2 separate regions of the Homo sapiens genome follow, and region 2 is linked to region 1. A link means that fine-mapping ties the variant in region 1 to the expression of a gene that starts in the linked region. Tissue or cell type: whole blood. Region 1 holds a variant in brackets; the other region holds the start of a gene. All regions are shown on one strand. Distances are between the middles of the regions.

The links. PIP is the estimated chance that this variant, and not a neighbour inherited with it, causes the effect.
Region 2: NDEL1 starts here. The variant in region 1 is fine-mapped to the expression of NDEL1 in whole blood (INTERVAL, PIP above 0.99).

The regions. Positions count from the first base shown.
Region 1 is chr17:8,408,495-8,416,675 of GRCh38, forward strand. It overlaps a transcript of NDEL1 not described here. Among named protein-coding and RNA genes, the nearest start is that of RNF222, 15 kb to the left of the region's middle. RefSeq lists an enhancer at 1,797-2,091. The variant C/T (reference allele first, on the strand shown) is at 4,125.
Region 2 is chr17:8,432,279-8,440,459 of GRCh38, forward strand. NDEL1 (nudE neurodevelopment protein 1 like 1) reads left to right here and starts at 3,606. Exons shown (of 9, transcript NM_030808.5): 1 at 3,606-3,767. RefSeq lists silencers at 3,410-3,579, 3,680-3,879, 3,920-4,159.

The DNA of each region.
Region 1 (8,181 bases):
GGGAGGAAGTGGAGACAGCAGGGCGGGACACCAGGTGAGCAGAAAGGGGCTGAGTCATGGCCCAAGCTTGTGCCAGCCGGGGCAGCGCGGGGCTGCACTCCTGGCACCCACCTCACGGATTCCCTCTCACTGTTGTCAAGTGACCCACTCCCGGGGCAGAGATGCTTCAGGACAGGCGGGGGAGGGAAGCCACCAAGACAGTGGAGAGGTTTGTTCTCAGGGACACGGCAGCATTTGGAGAAACAGTGCTTGACGTGAGCTGGCCGCCTTGGAGGATTTTCTGAGTTGGCAGTGTTCATCCCAGGGCTTAAATCCTCCCGGACAGCTAGGAGGCCTCAATTCTTGAGACAGGTAAGGCCCGGGTCAGGGACAGAGTTCAGAGTAAGAACAATCTTATTTTCGGATGATAAAAATAGCACTACTATTGAAAAAAAATGTGGAAAATTTTAACACACACATAAACACACACGCACACACACACACACACACACACACACACACAATACAAGCTGTACACCACTTCTACAGAAAACTACCATTAATATTTTGGTGTTTATTCCAGCGTGCATATATATATATAGCCATATAATATATAATTATGTTAAAATGTATAGTTGTATTTATACATATGATATATAATTATTTTTAAGATAAATGAGGTCACATTGTATGAATGCTTTTGGGACCTTTTTTTTTTTTTCAATTGTTAACTTTTAATCCCAATAAACATTCTTTTAGATCCTCTTTTTAAATAGATGTAGTAATTTGCTTAATTAATCTCATGTTGATTCATATTTAGGTTGTTTCCAATTTTTCCCTATTATAAAAATTGTTGGCCGGGCGCAGTGGCTCATGCCTGTAATCCCAGCACTTTGGGAGGCCGAGGTGGGCGGATCACCTGAAGTCAGGAGTTCGAAACCAGCCTTGACCATCATGGTGAAACCCTGTCTCTACTAAAAATACAAAAATTACCTGGGCATCATGGCATCCACCTGTAATCCCAGCTACTAGGGAGACTGAGGCAGGAGAATCGCTTGAACCCGGGAGGTGGGGGTTGCGGTGCGCTGAGATGGCGCCATTGCACTCCAGCTTGGGCAACAAGGGTGAAACTCCATCTCAAAAAAAAAAAAAAAAAGTCTGCAGTAAGTGTTTTTACTGCAATATATTGGTGGTATTTCCTTAAAATAAATTACTAGCAATGGAATCGATAACTCAAAGGATAATATTGTTTTAAGGCCTTGTGATAAATATTGTAAATTTGCCTTTTAGGAAGGTTGTGCCTTCCTAAATGAGGTCATGAGGTCAGGAGTTCGAGACCAGCCTGACCAACATGGTGAAACCCCGTCTCTACTAAAAATACAAAAATTAGCTGGGTGTGGTGGCACGCTCCTGTAATCCCAGCTACTCAGGAGGCTGAGGCAGGAGAATCGCTTGAACCCGGGAGGTGGAGGTTGCAGTGAGCCGAGATCACGCCACTGTACTCTAGTCCGGGTGACAGAGCGAGACTCTGTCTCAAAAAAAAAAAAAGAATGTCCATGTGAATGTTGCAAACGCTTTCTTATAGGGACCAGTATTAAATCTTTGTGGTTTTACCCTGAGTCAGAACACTAAGAGCCTGGTTTATTTACTGACCACTTGCTTTGACGCTCGTGAGAAGGCTGTTCTGTTGAAGTCGTAATGCTTTGCACCCAGTAGGAGCTCAACAAATGCCTAATGAGCTGAACTCAATTGAGAAGGTCAAGGGGCTAAGCAAACATGGGGGTGCTGCATCATTGCCATTTAGAGAGTAACGAGTTATCTGAACCAGCGACAGGAATAGTGAATGGTGAGTGTTGAAGGGGCAGAAATAAAGAACCAAGGGATCCGTTACAGAAGGCTCAGACCTTGAGCTGCAGCTTTGAGAGGGAATGCCTGGAGCCGAAATGAGCGATACATACCTAATCACGGCCAGCAGGTGGCGCTCTAAAGATGTCTCGTTGCTATCCAGACTCCCAGCCAAGATCTTGCTGGAGCACCGGGAAGTGGAAACTGAGTGAGGCATGGGGAACCTCTCAGCCCTAACTTTTTGCGCTGTGCTTCCTCCGGAAGTGCAGTTCCCAAGATCAGGAGCCCTGTAGGTATTTTTGCTTTGTTTTCCTATGCTTGTTTGGCTTGTGGGTGTCTCTGTAGAGCACCATCCATTCAATTCAGTTTCGAACAGTATGGTCTCGAACTTTGATGAGCAAACCCTCACCTGCTTCTCTTGTGAAAATGCAAATTCTGATTCAGTAGAACTGGGGTGGGGCCTGAGATTCTGCATTTCTAACAAGCTCCCTGGTGATGACTCATGCCCAGTAGTTCTAAAATTTGTTAGAACATGCTGTGTAAAGTTCCATCTCTATGCAATATGGGAGGTGAGAGAGAAGCAAATCCAGGCTCTTCTCTCAAAGGGTTTACCAGAGTGAACACAATTTCACAGAAATGTCTGAAATACAAGTTAGAGTGTGAGCCCACTCACGGCATGACCTTGGGCAAGTTGCATGACTTCTTTGGGTCTCAGTTTCCTCATCTGTAAAATGGGAATAGTAATAGCCTCTACCTTAGAAAGTTACTTGAGAATTAAAGCAGGATATTGTACATAAAACACTTGCACAGTGGCTAGCACATAGTAAACCTCAACAAGGCTTGGGGCACCCTAAAGCAGTATGGAGTCAGGCAGGTTACCCTGGCAGGGTGGTAAATTGGAGGAAGCAAGTGGTGGGGGTCAATCCTTAAGAAGGCGCCATCTTGGGTTGGGTGCATTGGCTCGCGCCTGTAATCCCAGCACTTTGGGAGGCTGAGGCGGGTGGATCATGAGGTGAGGAGTTCAAGACCAGCCTGGCCAAAATGGTGAAACCCCGTCTCTACTAAAAATATATAAACTAGCCAGGTATGGTGGTGGGCGCCTGTAATCCCAGCTACTCAGGAGGCTGAGGCAGAGAATTGCTTGAAGCCGGGAGGTGGAGGTTGCAGTGGGCCAAGATCGCACCACTGCACTCCAGCTTGGGTGAAGAGGATGCCATCTCAGTTGTCAGGATATCCATCATCTGAGAAGAAGGGTGTCAGGAGGTGAGGACAGAGAGCCAGGAAGAGGTCAGGTGCCTTGATTAGCAGGTGGCAAACCCAAGAGCTGCTTTTGAGGGGGATTTAAGTGTGCTGAGGCTAAGCAGGAAGCAGCCTTCCTTCTGGAGATGGAGGTGGGCAGGATTTCCAGGCAGATCAAGCAGCGGCTTTCCACACACGCCCCTATTTCACATCTTTAGGAGCTTTAGGAACTTGCGAGAGGAGCTAAGAGGAGCCAAGTGTCACCCTGATCCTGCCTGCGTGCATGGCTTTGCCACATCCTGTAAAAGCCTCAGTCCCACTGCTATGGATTCCTCAGCCCAGGTCCCTAAGTTTACCCACATGCTTTAAATAGGGGTGATGTTTCTATGAACCTCTAAGATCCACAAATATTTATGGACTTAACCTCCAGGGCTCTGATGAGTGCCCCTGGGGATACAGAGACAAATCCACACAGCCCCTACCTTCACGGCTGACCCTGGGGAGAAAAGACATCACCCCGGGAAAAGGAAAAGAATGATTAGTGAAGGGTCTCCTAGCCCTTCTTAACAATGGTGCTTCTTCTAGATCGTAAGACTAATTGATGCATGAGACCTACAGCCACTGCAGAGGCAAGAGTGTTCAGGGGACTCTTTAGACCAGGGTGTCTGACCTAATAAAGCCATAAGGAGTGAGTCAGATCTGATAGGGCTGGAAGGGGACAACCACTAACAGCTAAAGGGACTAATTGGACTTGGGTGGAGCCAATTACGCACGTTATCTCATTTAAGCCCTACAAAATACTATGAGGTCAGTACCAGCATTGTTTCCGTTTATAGATGAGGCAAATGAGACTCAGAGAGCAAAGCAACTTGCTCAAGTTCTTTTTTTGTTGAGATGGAGTCTTGCTCTGTCGCCCAAGCTGGAGTGCAGTGGCACAATCTTGGCTCACTGCAACCTCCGCCTCCCGGGTTCAAGTGATTCTCCTGCCTCAGCCTCCCGAGTACGTGGGATTACAGGTGTGTGCCACCATGCCTGGCTAATTTTTGTATTTTTAGTAGAGA[C/T]AGGATTTCACCATGTTGGCCAGGCTGTTCTTGAACTCCTGACCTTAGGTGATCCACTCGCCTCGGCCTCCCAAAGTGCTGGGATTACAGGTGTCAGCCACCGTGCCCGGTTTCAAGTTCTCACAGCTACAAGTGGCAGGTGGAGGCTATGGGACAAGTTCATTCTCTTGTGTACCATGTTATGTGCTTGGCCCTTGTGGAGAGACAAACAACACTGGCATTCACTGTCTCCCCACCTTAAGTAGTGACAGCTCTTCCCCATGCCTTTACCCTCCAAATACGGGGATGAAGGCAGGAAAGTGGAGGAGAGAACAGGACATCTGTCTGGAAGACCAGTGGCTTCCAAACTACACATGCAGGGGAGATGGGAAGGCTGAAGGCCTGGCTGAGAACTTGAATTTCTTCTTTCCTTCCCGAAGCACTGAAGTCTTGCTCAACCCCAGCTGAGTGATGAGGCGGGCAGGGTTGCCTCACTTCAGGGCAGCAGGCCCCAGCCTTCCTGGCTCTAATCCATTTCCCATCCTTGCGTATCTTTGGTCGGACGGTGATTCTCACTCTTCCTATTGACTTCTACTTTGTGTCAGCAAGTTCAGCGTGGGCCCCGTATGCTGCCGTGGATCTGATCAGCTGAGGCCTGAGACACAGGACCAGGTACATTGGGAGGAAAGAGCTGATTGGAGAAGGTCTGGGCCACATGAGGGTTTGCCTGAGAGATGCCAGAATGGGGGGCTCCTGATGTCTGAGGACCCTCTGTGCCCATGAGGCAGGCGGATTGTCAAAGGCTGAGGTCCATTTGGAAAGTTGGTTATGTCCCTGTGGCATGAGGGTTGGGTGACATAAAGAGACGGCTTTGGTGGTTTCCTGAAACCATATCATTTGCGCACATCTTCCCCCTGATATTCTGATCACCTTGATTTGGTTTCCTATTTCCTGAACTGCCCACATAGCATTTTTCTGGGTTGCAGAGGGAGTTCATAGGGTTCTGACAGGTTTATCTGGAGCCAACAGAGACAGTCAGTGAGATGCACTGAAGCCATGCTGAGCTGACCAAGTTAGGGGCTTGCGATCATGTCCTGGGACCTTGACTTCACTGCTCATGGGCCATTTGCTTCCCTCTGAACGTGTTTTCTCATCTACAAAATGTAAGACATCTCTATTTTTTTGGATGTTTGTAAACTTAAGCAGAATGATGATTGTGAAGGTGTTTTGTAAACTGTATGATTGTATTCTTCAGGGTTTGGGGTTACTTTTATTTCATTTTGTAAATGGAACTAGATGATTTTTCCTGATAATATAATATCTGATAAAAATTTAATCAGTACAGAGACATTGAAAGTGTTTGCATAATTCTATCTCTAAAGATTAATATTTTGGCATATAGACATCTAGACTTTTAAATGAATATTTTTATGTCAAATTCTACTTACTGTCTTTCAACCTTTTTTTCACTTAATAGTATCTCTTGAGTGTCATCTCTTGTTAATTCATAATTATCTACCTTGTCCTTTTTAACAGCTATGTAGTATTCCATTGTGTGGCTGTACCATGATTTATTAAACCAGTCTCCTATTGGTGGGTGTTTAGGGTGTTTCCAATTTATTTCTATAATAATAAACAGTGCCACAGTAAACATCACTGAATGTACATCTTTGCATACTATTATTTCCTTAGAATAAATCCTTAGATGTTGGATTGCTAGGTGAAAGGTTGTACATATATTTAGTTTTCATTCATTTGTCCAGATTCCCTTAAGAAATGTCGTACCATGGCCGGGCGCGGTGGCTCACGCCTGTAATCCCAGCACTTTGGGAGGCCAAGGCTGGCGGATCATGAGGTCAGGATATCGAGACCATCCTGGCTAACATGGTGAAACCCCGTCTCTACTAAAAATACAAAAAATTAGCCGGGCGTGGTGTTGGGCACCTGTAGTCCCAGCTACCCGGGAGGCTGAGGCAGGAGAATGGTGTGAACTTGGGAGGCGGAGCTGGCAGTGAGCTGAGATCGCGCCACTGCACTCTAGCCTGGACGACAGAGCGAGACTCCATCTCAAAAAAAAAAAGTGTCATACCATCTTATTTATTTATTTGAGGCCGGGTCTTGCTATGTTGCCCAGCCTGGTGTGAAACACTGGCCTCAAGAGATCCTCCCACCTCAGCCTCCTGAGTAGCTGGGATTACAGGCTTGAGCCACTGTACCTTCATTTGCTTAGTTTTTAGATACATATCACTGATTCCTCTCTAACAGACCTATAAAATTCCTGGCAATATGATCAACACATTAGATTATCTCTCAGTCTCTATTATCTATTAGATTATCTCTCAGTCTCTTTCTCTTATTCCTCAGAGACATCTGCCTGGTGCCTCATCCTACTGCTCCCTCTTGGATTGGTTTCTCCCCAGGACTGCTGAATGTTGTCATCTTAGGAGTTCCCTTTTCTCTTTCTTGTGTGAATCCTCTCTCTTTTGGATACCACCTTCCTTTCTTCCTCCCTCCCTCCCTCCCTCCCTCCTGCCTCTTCTCTCTTTCTGTCTCTCTGTCTCCCTCTCTCCCTCTCTCTTTCTCTCTTTCTTTCTTTTTTGAGATGGGATCTTGCTCTGTTGCCCAGGCTGGAGTGCAGTGGTGCGATCACAGCTTACTACAGTCTTGAATTCCCGGGCTTAAGCCATCCTCCCACCTCAGCCTGCCAAGTAGCTGGGGCCACAGGTGTCTGCCATCATACTTGGCTAATTTTTTGCATTTTTTTAGAGACGAGGTTTTGCCACTTTTTAATTTATATGTATACTTTTTTTTGCCACTTTATAGTTTTAACATTTATTTATTTATTTATTTATTTAGAGATAGGGTCTCACTCTGTTGCCCAGGCTGGAGTGCAGTGGCGCAATCACAGCTCACTGCAGCCTCGACCTCCCTGGGCTCGGGTGATTCTCTTAGCTCAGCCTCCTGAGTAGCTGGGACTACAGGCACGTGCTGCCATACTTGGCTGATTTTTGTATTTTTTGTAGAGACAGGGCTTCACCATGTTGCCTAGGCTGTTCTGGAACTCCTGGGCTCTTGCCTCGGTCTCCCAGCGCTGGGATTACAGGCGTGAGACACCTATTTTCCATTTTTAATGTGCCTTGCCCATTTTACATTTTTTATTGTGGTAAATAGATGGAGTCTCGCACTGTTGCCCAGGCTGGAGTGTGATGGCGCGATCTCAGTTCACTGCAACCTCTGTCTCCCAGGTTCAAGCGATTCTCCTGCCTCAGCCTCCTGAGTAGCCGGGATTACAGGCGCCTGCCACCATGTCCGGCTACTTTTTTGTATTTTTAGTAGAGATGGGGTTTCACCATGATGGCCAGGCTGGTCTTGAACACCTGACCTCGTGATCCACCCGTCTCCGCCTCCCAAAGTGCTGGGATTACAGGCATGAGCCACCGCGCCTGGCCCATTTTAATCATTTTTAAGCGTACAGTTCAGTGGCATTAAGTACGTTCACATTGTTGTGCTTACTGTCACCACCACCCATCTCCAGAACTTCTTCATCTTCCCAAACTGAAACTCTGTACCCATTAAGCACTGAATCCCCATTTTCCCCTCCCTCCCAGGCCCTGGCAACCATCATTCTACTTTCCGTTTCTATGAATTTCACTCTTCTAATTACCTCATATGAGGAGAATCATACAGTACTTGTCTGTTTGTATGGATCTCACATTTTCCCCTTTATTTTCTTCCCTGTTTTGGTGACATGCATCTTCCAATGACAGGAGGTAATTTTGATAGGTTTTGACTATCTGGAAACAGTCCTTCATTCTATTCTTATACTTGTTGAAGGGTCTGGCTTGATTTAGAATACTTGTTGGAAATGATTTTTTTCTCTGAATGTTAAAGGCAATGGTTCATTGTTTTCAAGCTTCTAGTTTATTGTTGAAGTCTTCTGCTATTATGATTCAGGATCCTTTGTACTTGTCCTGGTTTTATGTCTGTGGAAGTTTTTAGGAGTGTCTTGTCATCCCTAGGATTCTGAAATTTCATCTGTGGGTGTTTTTTCATCGATTGTCCTGCGTACTCAGGAGAC
Region 2 (8,181 bases), 24 kb after region 1:
AAGAAAAATGGCTACCCTTTAAAGAGATATATATATATATTTATATATAAATATATATATTATATATAAATATAAATATAAATATATATATATTTAATGGCAGGCCAATATATATATATTTTTTGAGACAGAGTCTCGCTCTGTTGCCCAGGCTGGAGTGTAGTGGCGCGATCTCGGCTCACTGCAAGCTCCGCCTCCCGGGTTCATGCCATTCTCCTGCCTCAGCCTCCCAAGTAGCTGGGACTACAGGCGTCCACCACTACACCCAGCTAATTTTTTGGATTTTTAGTAGAGACGGGTTTTCACCGTGTTAGCCAGGATGGTCTCGATCTCCTGACCTCGTGATCCGCCTGCCTCGGCTTCCCAAAGTGCTGGGATTACAGGCATGAGCCACTGCGCCTGGCCTAAAGATTTTTTAAGATTAGGAAACAAAAAGTCTTCAGAGGGAGCCAAATTGGGACTGTAAGGTGATGTCTACTGATTTTCCACTGAAACTCTTGCAAAATTGCCCTTGTTTGATGAGAGAAATGAGCAGGAACTTTATCATGGTGGAAAGGTCTCTCTGATGAAGGTTTCCTGGGCATTTTTCCACTAAAGCTTTGGCTAATCTTCTCAAAACACTCTCGTAATAAGTACGTTATTATTCTTTAGCCCTCCAGAAAGCAAAATGCCTAGAACAACCCACAAAATGGTTGCCATGATTTTTGCTCTTGACTGGTTCACTTTGCTTTGACTGGACTACTTCCATCTCTTGGTAGCCACCGCTTTGTCTTCAGGATTGTACTGGTAAAGCGAAGTTTCATTCTTGGTTACAATTCTTCAAAAAAAAAAAAAGCTTCAGGATCTTGATCCCACTTGTTTAAAATGTGTGAAATTTTGAAAGCTCTGTTCTTGTCAGCAGCTGACCTGGGCACAATGGTTTTGCCACCCATTGGGTGGAAAGTTAGCTCAACTTTAATTTTTCAGTAAGGATTGTGTAGGCCAAATCTGTTGAGATATCTGTGGTGCTGGCTATTGTTTCTGCTGTTAATCATTGATCCTTTTCAATTAGCACATGAACAAGATTACTTTTTTTCCTCACAAATTGATGTGGAGGGTCTGCTGCTGTGGGCTTCATCTTCAACATCATCATGTTTCTTCTTAAAATGAATTATCCATTTGTAAACTGCTGACTTCTTTTGGGGCTTTGTCCTTTTACACTTTTATAAAGCGTCAATGATTCCACCATTTTTCCACCCAGGCTTCACCATAAATTTAGTATTTTGTATTGCTTCAATTTTGTAGAATATGTGTTCTGATAGGGACTCTCTTCAAACTGATTTCTTATCTTTCTTGGTGCTTCAAGCTAGATCCTGTTCAGACATGTTATAGCAAGTTAGAACAAATTTATTTTGGTGCAAACATTTATTTTATTTTTTTAGAGACAGGTGTCTCACTGTGCTGCCCAGGCTGGTCTCGAACTTCTGGGCTCAAGTGATCTGTCTACCTCAGCTTCCCAGAGTGCTGGGATTACAGGTATGGGCCACCATGCTTGGCCCTGTGCAAAAAAAAAATTGGAAATCCATGCATAGTTTTTTCATAATATGCATATTATTCATAATATTATTCATAATAGGCATATGTAATATGTTACCTTTCCCACAAACCCCATTAATCCCTTCTCTGATCTTTATTGATTTGGGTACCTCTTACAATCCATCTTGCATTGTTCCTGTTTATGTCCATCGCCCTCAAAAATATAAACTGGGCCTCCTAGGCTCACTTTGTTTTCACCTTGAGGCATGTCTTACACATTATTTTTGTGTTCACACCCACAAATCCAATCCTAAAAGCACTGAAATTGGAAAGGATTACATTGCGTGCCGCATGGAGGCTGGTGCCTGTAATCCCAGGACTTTGTGGGGGGCTGAGGTGGGAAGATTGCCTGAAGTCAGGAGTTCTTTTTTGTTTTGTTTTGTTTGTTTTTAGACGGAGTCTCACTCTGTCGCCCAGGTTAGAGTGCAGTGGTGCTCACTGCAACCTCCGCCTCCCGGGTTCGAGCGATTCTCCTGCCTCAGCCTCCGGAGTAGCTAGGATTACAGGTGCCCACCATCATGCCTGGCTAATTTTTGTACTTTTAGTAGAGACAGGGTTTCACCATGTTGGCCAGGCTGGTCTCGAAGTCCTGGCCTCAGGTGATTTGCCCGCCTCGGCTTCCCAAAGTGCTGCAGCGCCTGGCCGAAGTCAGGAGTTCTTGACCAGCCTGGGCAACACAGTAGACCCCATCTCCTAAAGGAAAGGATTACCTTGTACATTATACAGCAAAAGTTCTTAAAATTGTTTTTAAAATGTATCTCTTCCTTTAAGTTTCCACTCCCTATGTAAGTTGCCTATCCCTCTTTCCCTCCTTTTTGGGCTAGTATCGTCTCCAGCTTGCTTCCAAGTCCGCTAGGGAATACACACGCGCGCACACACACATACACGTGTGTGTTTACGTACTAAAAATATATAAACATTAATAATGCAAGATGGGGCCGGGCGCTGTGTCTCACGCCTGTAATCCCAGCACTTTGGGAGGCCGAGGCGGGCGGATCACGAGGTCAGGAGTTCGAGACCAGCCTGGCCAACATGGTGAAACCCCGTCTCTACTAAAAATACAAAAATTAGTCGGGCGTGGTGGCAGGCGCCTGTAATCCCAGCTACTAGGGAGGCTGAGGCAGGAGAATTGCTTAAACCTGGGAGGCGGAGGTTGCAGTGAGCCGAGATCGCGCCACTGCACTCCAGCCTGGGCAACAAGAGCGAAACTCCGTCTCAAAAACAAACAAACAAACAAACAAACAAAAACCAAGATGGATTGTAAGAGGTATATATATACACATAGGACTCCATTTCTTGGGGGACCTGGAGGGGAGAAAGTCACACCCATACACACACGTACACGCATGTATACAAAAATGAATATATGCTCAGATATATACAATATATAAATGGGCAAATATAAAATCCCCTTTGTGCCAACGAATCCATTCATTCATTCATCAAATATTTGAGCGTCCACTTTGCCTAGAACCAAGTTATCTGTTGGGATGAGCAAGGCATAAGAGGTTCTAGCTCTCATAGAACTTAGAATTCTACTGGAGGAAGATGAGAACAAATACAAAATGTAAACAGTGGAAGTTCTGTAAAAACAACACAGAGCTTTGTGAGAGTGATGCTTAGAATGCTCCTGATGTTCCATTGGGTGTTCGAGCAGGGGGAATGGACTCGGAGGTGAACTATGAGCCGAGATTCATTTTATAAACGGGAACACAGACACATGGACACTTGAAGGGCCTTGGTGGCCAGAAAACTGAAGGCAGGTTCCCATCCGTCTTGGCACCACTCTCCCGAATAGCAGTTTCAGGGAACTGCACAAGCCAAAACCAGCCGGTCGCAGAGTCCAGGAGCGCCTGCGCAAGAGGACGCCTGCGCAAGAGGACGCCGTCAGCTTGGCGTCAGCGCGCCGGGCTCTGGCCCGCCCCCTGTGACACCAGCCCCGCCCCACCCCGCCCCGCATACCCGTGCGCTGCCGCGCATGCTCCGAGCCCCGCCCCCGTGCGTCACAGAATGGCCTCGGACACCCAGGCAGTCCCTGACGTGTCGGGGAGGAGCCGGGCGCGGAGGTACGCTGAGTGGAGCTCGGGGCTGCGTAGGGGAGCTGAGCCGAGCGGCTGGGCGGGCCTGGCCGGGCCGGCGGAGGGGAGACGTCGGTTGAGCGGCGGCGAACATGCGCTTTTGACACATTGGAGGTGAGCCTGCAGCGCGGGGCCGCTCCCTAAGGGGCTGCGCTGGGCCGGCGGCGCCGAGGCCTGCCCTTGGGGAGCCTTCCCGGCCCGGGGCCGTGTCTGAGGCTCCGCCGGGGCGGGCCGGGCCGGGTTCCGGGGCGGCCAGCCTGGGGGCAACTGTTCCAACCGCTCTAACTGTCCCCTCCCTTCCCTGGTCCGATGTGTGGCCCCCCAGGGGCGCCTGCAAGGGAACGATTCCGGTGGCCTCCGGAAGATGTGCCCCGTTCCGGGTAGGGTGAGGGCTGGCGGTGACGGAGGCCGGGACGTGGCACCGTGGGCTGGGGCGCTGGCGGCGCAAGGAGTGGCCCAGTCGGAGGTGGCAGCGGCGCGCCCAGCCCGCCTCCTCCTACCCCCTCTTCGAAATTCCTTCATTTGCGAGGGTGGCTTGGAGCGGGGTTGCATTTTGATCTCTCAGTGCCTCTCTCCCATGGGGGGCGAGAGCGCGAGCAGCCCACGTTGGGCTCGGATTGGCATTCTCCTGACTCCCGCCCGGAACTGCTAATCATCCTCCCCCTGGAGTTCGGCAAAGTGTCACCAACGGGCTCGGGTTACTTGTGCTCGACTCTTTTCTTGCTGTAAGCCATGAGATGACCCTTTAAGTTTTGCAAAGGAGGTGAGAGTTCTGTCACCACTGATTATTACCTTCTATTTACGTAGCACCTTTACACGTTTCAGAGCACTCTTCTTCCTATCTTTTTCTAACCGCATCACCTTGTGGTTGCAACTGATTATGTTATCGCCATTTCGATGGGTAAATGGAGCTGGGATGGGGGTAATTATTTATACTTAGGTTCAACCAACTGGTGAGTGGTTTAGCTTGGATCATAATTTACATTTCTAGGCTCGGAGTTCTGGTTTCTTTTCGTGGGATTTTTATACCCTTCTCAGCTACAAAACAAGGCAGAAAATGTGACTTGCCAAAGATATGCCAGAAGCTGGTAGATTACTTACTCAATTATTTTTGAGAAAACTCACCTAGGATAAAAACGGCTGCTCAGTCATGAGAAAAATCTTCCTGTGAAGCTTGTTCAGGAGTTGCTGGTTAATTGCTTTGCTAAATCGTGAAGTTGATGGGCACAGTGCAGCGTTAAGTCATGGGCTGAAGAGAAGTAAAGGGAAACCAAGTGAAGTATTTCTTCTGAATTATTATTAAAATTATTGTTATTTAAAATTAGAGTGCGTGAGAAACAAAACCTTTGGCCAGCCCTGGTTAGAGGTTGACTTGATCCAGATAGAAGTTGCTAAATCTTCTGAAGCTGTAGTTCTTTTGATTTTTTTAAATTAAATAAATTGAAGTTGGATAAAGAGCTTAAAATAAGTAGGAACCTTAGTAAAACTTAGATCTTGCTTTCATGACATCTGCAAAACAACTTATTTTTGTTTTCATTTTAAACCATGCTGGGATAAATTTGGTTACTAAAGCTTAAAATTACTTCTGACGTAAGTTTCTGAGCACTCCATAAAGTAAAAAAGAAGTCTGATAGAATCAAAGAGAGACCGTGTTTATGATCAACTTTGAAGAGTTAAAAATTCTGTAAATGTCACCTTTGAGAGTAGTAGAATTTCAGTAAAAAGGCATATATTGCCAACAGTGAGTTCTGAAAGAACTCTTCTAACGTCAGTCCATTTTAGAACTGTTAACCAGAAACAATATCATTGAAAATAGATTTTCTTACCATTGTACAAAGAATAATTTCCTTGTAAATAAAAGGCATTTTGGACAGGCTGTTTTAAACTCAAATGAGTTGATTGTTGCTAGATTTCTGAAGGTCATACACAGTATGATAATGCTTTACGTAAAAATTGTCATGCTTTTGAGACTGTGTCCGTATTGAGATCTGGTATTAAAGAAAGATGGGGTGGGGGCGGGCAGAGAATAATAATTTTTTTTTTCTTTGATGGAGTCTCCCTCTGTTGCCCAGGCTGGAGTGCAGTGGCACAATCTCGGCTCACTGCAACCTCCACCTCCTGGATTCAAGCGATTCTCCTGCCTCAGCCTCCTGAGTAGCTGGGATTACAGGTGCGCACCACGATGCCCTGCTAATTTTTGTATATTTAGTAGAGACAGGGTTTCACCATGTTGGTCAGGCTGGTCTCGAACTCCTCACCTCGTGATCCGCCTGCCTCAGCCTCACAAAGTGCTGGGATTACAGGCGTGAGCCACCGTGCCCTGCCAATAATACATAATTATCTATCTTCATTCTAGCTTCAGAAAATTGTGGATGTACCATTAGAGCATTGTTTTAGCAGTATGTTTTCTATATTAGCTAACTTTCTATAGCCTGAATATCTCCAGTTACATAGTTTGAAATAAGTGAACACATCCTCCCAGTGTAACTTGAAGCAAACTGAACAGACTGTATAACAGCCCCTGAAACTGTCGTTTGAGTATCTGCAGTGGTAGCAAATTTTATTATTTGTAAATAATCTGATTTTTATTTTTATTTTTTTGGAGGCAGGGTCTCATTTTGTCACCCAGGCTGGAGTGCAGTGGAGTGATTACAGCTTACTGCAGCCTCAACTTCCTGGACTCAAGCGATCCTCCCACCACAGTCTCACGAGTAGCTGGGACCACAGGTGCATGCCACCACACCCAGCTCATTTTTGTATTTTTGTTAGAGATGGGGTTTCAGCATGTTGTCCAGGCTGGCCTTGAAGTTCCAGGCTCAACTGACATTCCCACCTCAGCCTTCCAAGTGCTGGGATTAATATGCGCGAGCCACTGTGCCTGGCCAGAATCTGATTTTTAAAAAGAGTAAATCTGATGGGTAAAAGTAGGGCAATAGAGCTGGATAATACCAGTTAGGAAGCAATAAAGATGAGGTGTGACCACAAAGTAAGAAGTTTTTGCTTTGTTCTTTTTTTTTTTTTTTGAAACGGAGTCTCTCTCTGTCACCCAGGCTGGAGTGGAGTGCGGTCGCGCGCTCTCGGCTCACTGCAAGTTCTGCCTCCCGGGTTCACGCCATTCTCCTGCCTCAGCCTCCCGAGTAGCTGGGACTGCAGGTGCCCACCACCACGCCCAGCTAGTTTTTTGTGTTTTTAGTAGAGACGGGGTTTCACCATGTTAGCAGGATAGTCTCAATCTCCTGACCTCGTGATCCGCCCGCCTCGGCCTCCCAAAGTGCTGGGATTACAGGTGTGAGCCACTGTGCCCGGCCTTTTTTTTTTTCTTTTATTTGAGATGGAATCTCACCCTTTTGCCCAGGCTGGAGTGCAGTGGCCAATCTCGGCTCACTGCAACCTCCTCCTCCCGGGTTTGAGCGATTCTCCTGCCTCAGCCTCCTGAGTAGCTGGGATTACAGGTGCCGGCCACCATACCCAGCTAATTTTTTTTTTTTTTTTTCATATTTTCGGTATAGACGAGGTTTCACCATGTTGGCCAGGCTGGTCTTGAACTCCTAACCTCAAGTGATCCGCCTGCCTCAGCCTCCCAAAGTGCTAGGATTATAGGCATGAGCCACCGCGCCTGGCCTGCTTTGTTCGCCTGCTTTGTTCTTAATGTGGCTCATAAAGGCTATTCCAAAAAAGAAGTTTTGGAAATGTTTTTCAGCAATGGTGATATCACTGGAATATGCATATATTCCTGAAATGATCAGTTTTAAAGAATCATTTGCATGTTTTAAATTTTGAAGCCTGTTTACTTTGTGGTCATACTTGAAAGGTCTGCTATCGAACTACCAATTTTTAATAGCTTGATGAACATTTAGGTTTTTACTATGTGCCAGGTTCTGTCCTAAGTACTTTACAAATATTAGCTCACTTCATAAGCTCATTCTAATGATTATCCCCATTTTACAGGTGAGGAAATGGGGCACTGAGTCATTAAGTCACTTGCCCAAGGTCACCCAAGTAGTGAGTAGATGCATCAGTAGCGAGTCTGAACTTCCAGGTCTGACTTCAGACTTGGGCAGTTTGGCTTCCCGGTCTGGGCTCTTAACCACTATGCTATGCTGCTCCTATGACTTATTCTTGGTTAAATGTTTTAAATTGTTTTGATCTGGAAGAGATGATGGTCCTTTTAGTAAATGATATCCAACATAGGTTATAATACTGTTAGAGGGGCCAATAAGCGGGTTATGAAAATAGCCTATTGATTAGAAAAGTTGTGGTCAACATTCAATTCACATGAGATTCAGCAAGAAAATAAAGAATGTGACCAGGCGCGGTGGCTCATGCCTGTAATCCCAGCACTTTGGGAGGCCGAGGAGGGCAGATCACGAGGTCAGGAGTTCGAGACAGCCTGGCCAACATGGTGAAACCGTGTCCTACTAAAAATACAAAAATTAGCCAGGTATGGTGGTGGGTGCTTGTAATCCCAGCTACTTAGGAGGCCGAGGCAAGAGAATTGCTTGAACCTGGGAGTCAGAGGTTGCAGTGA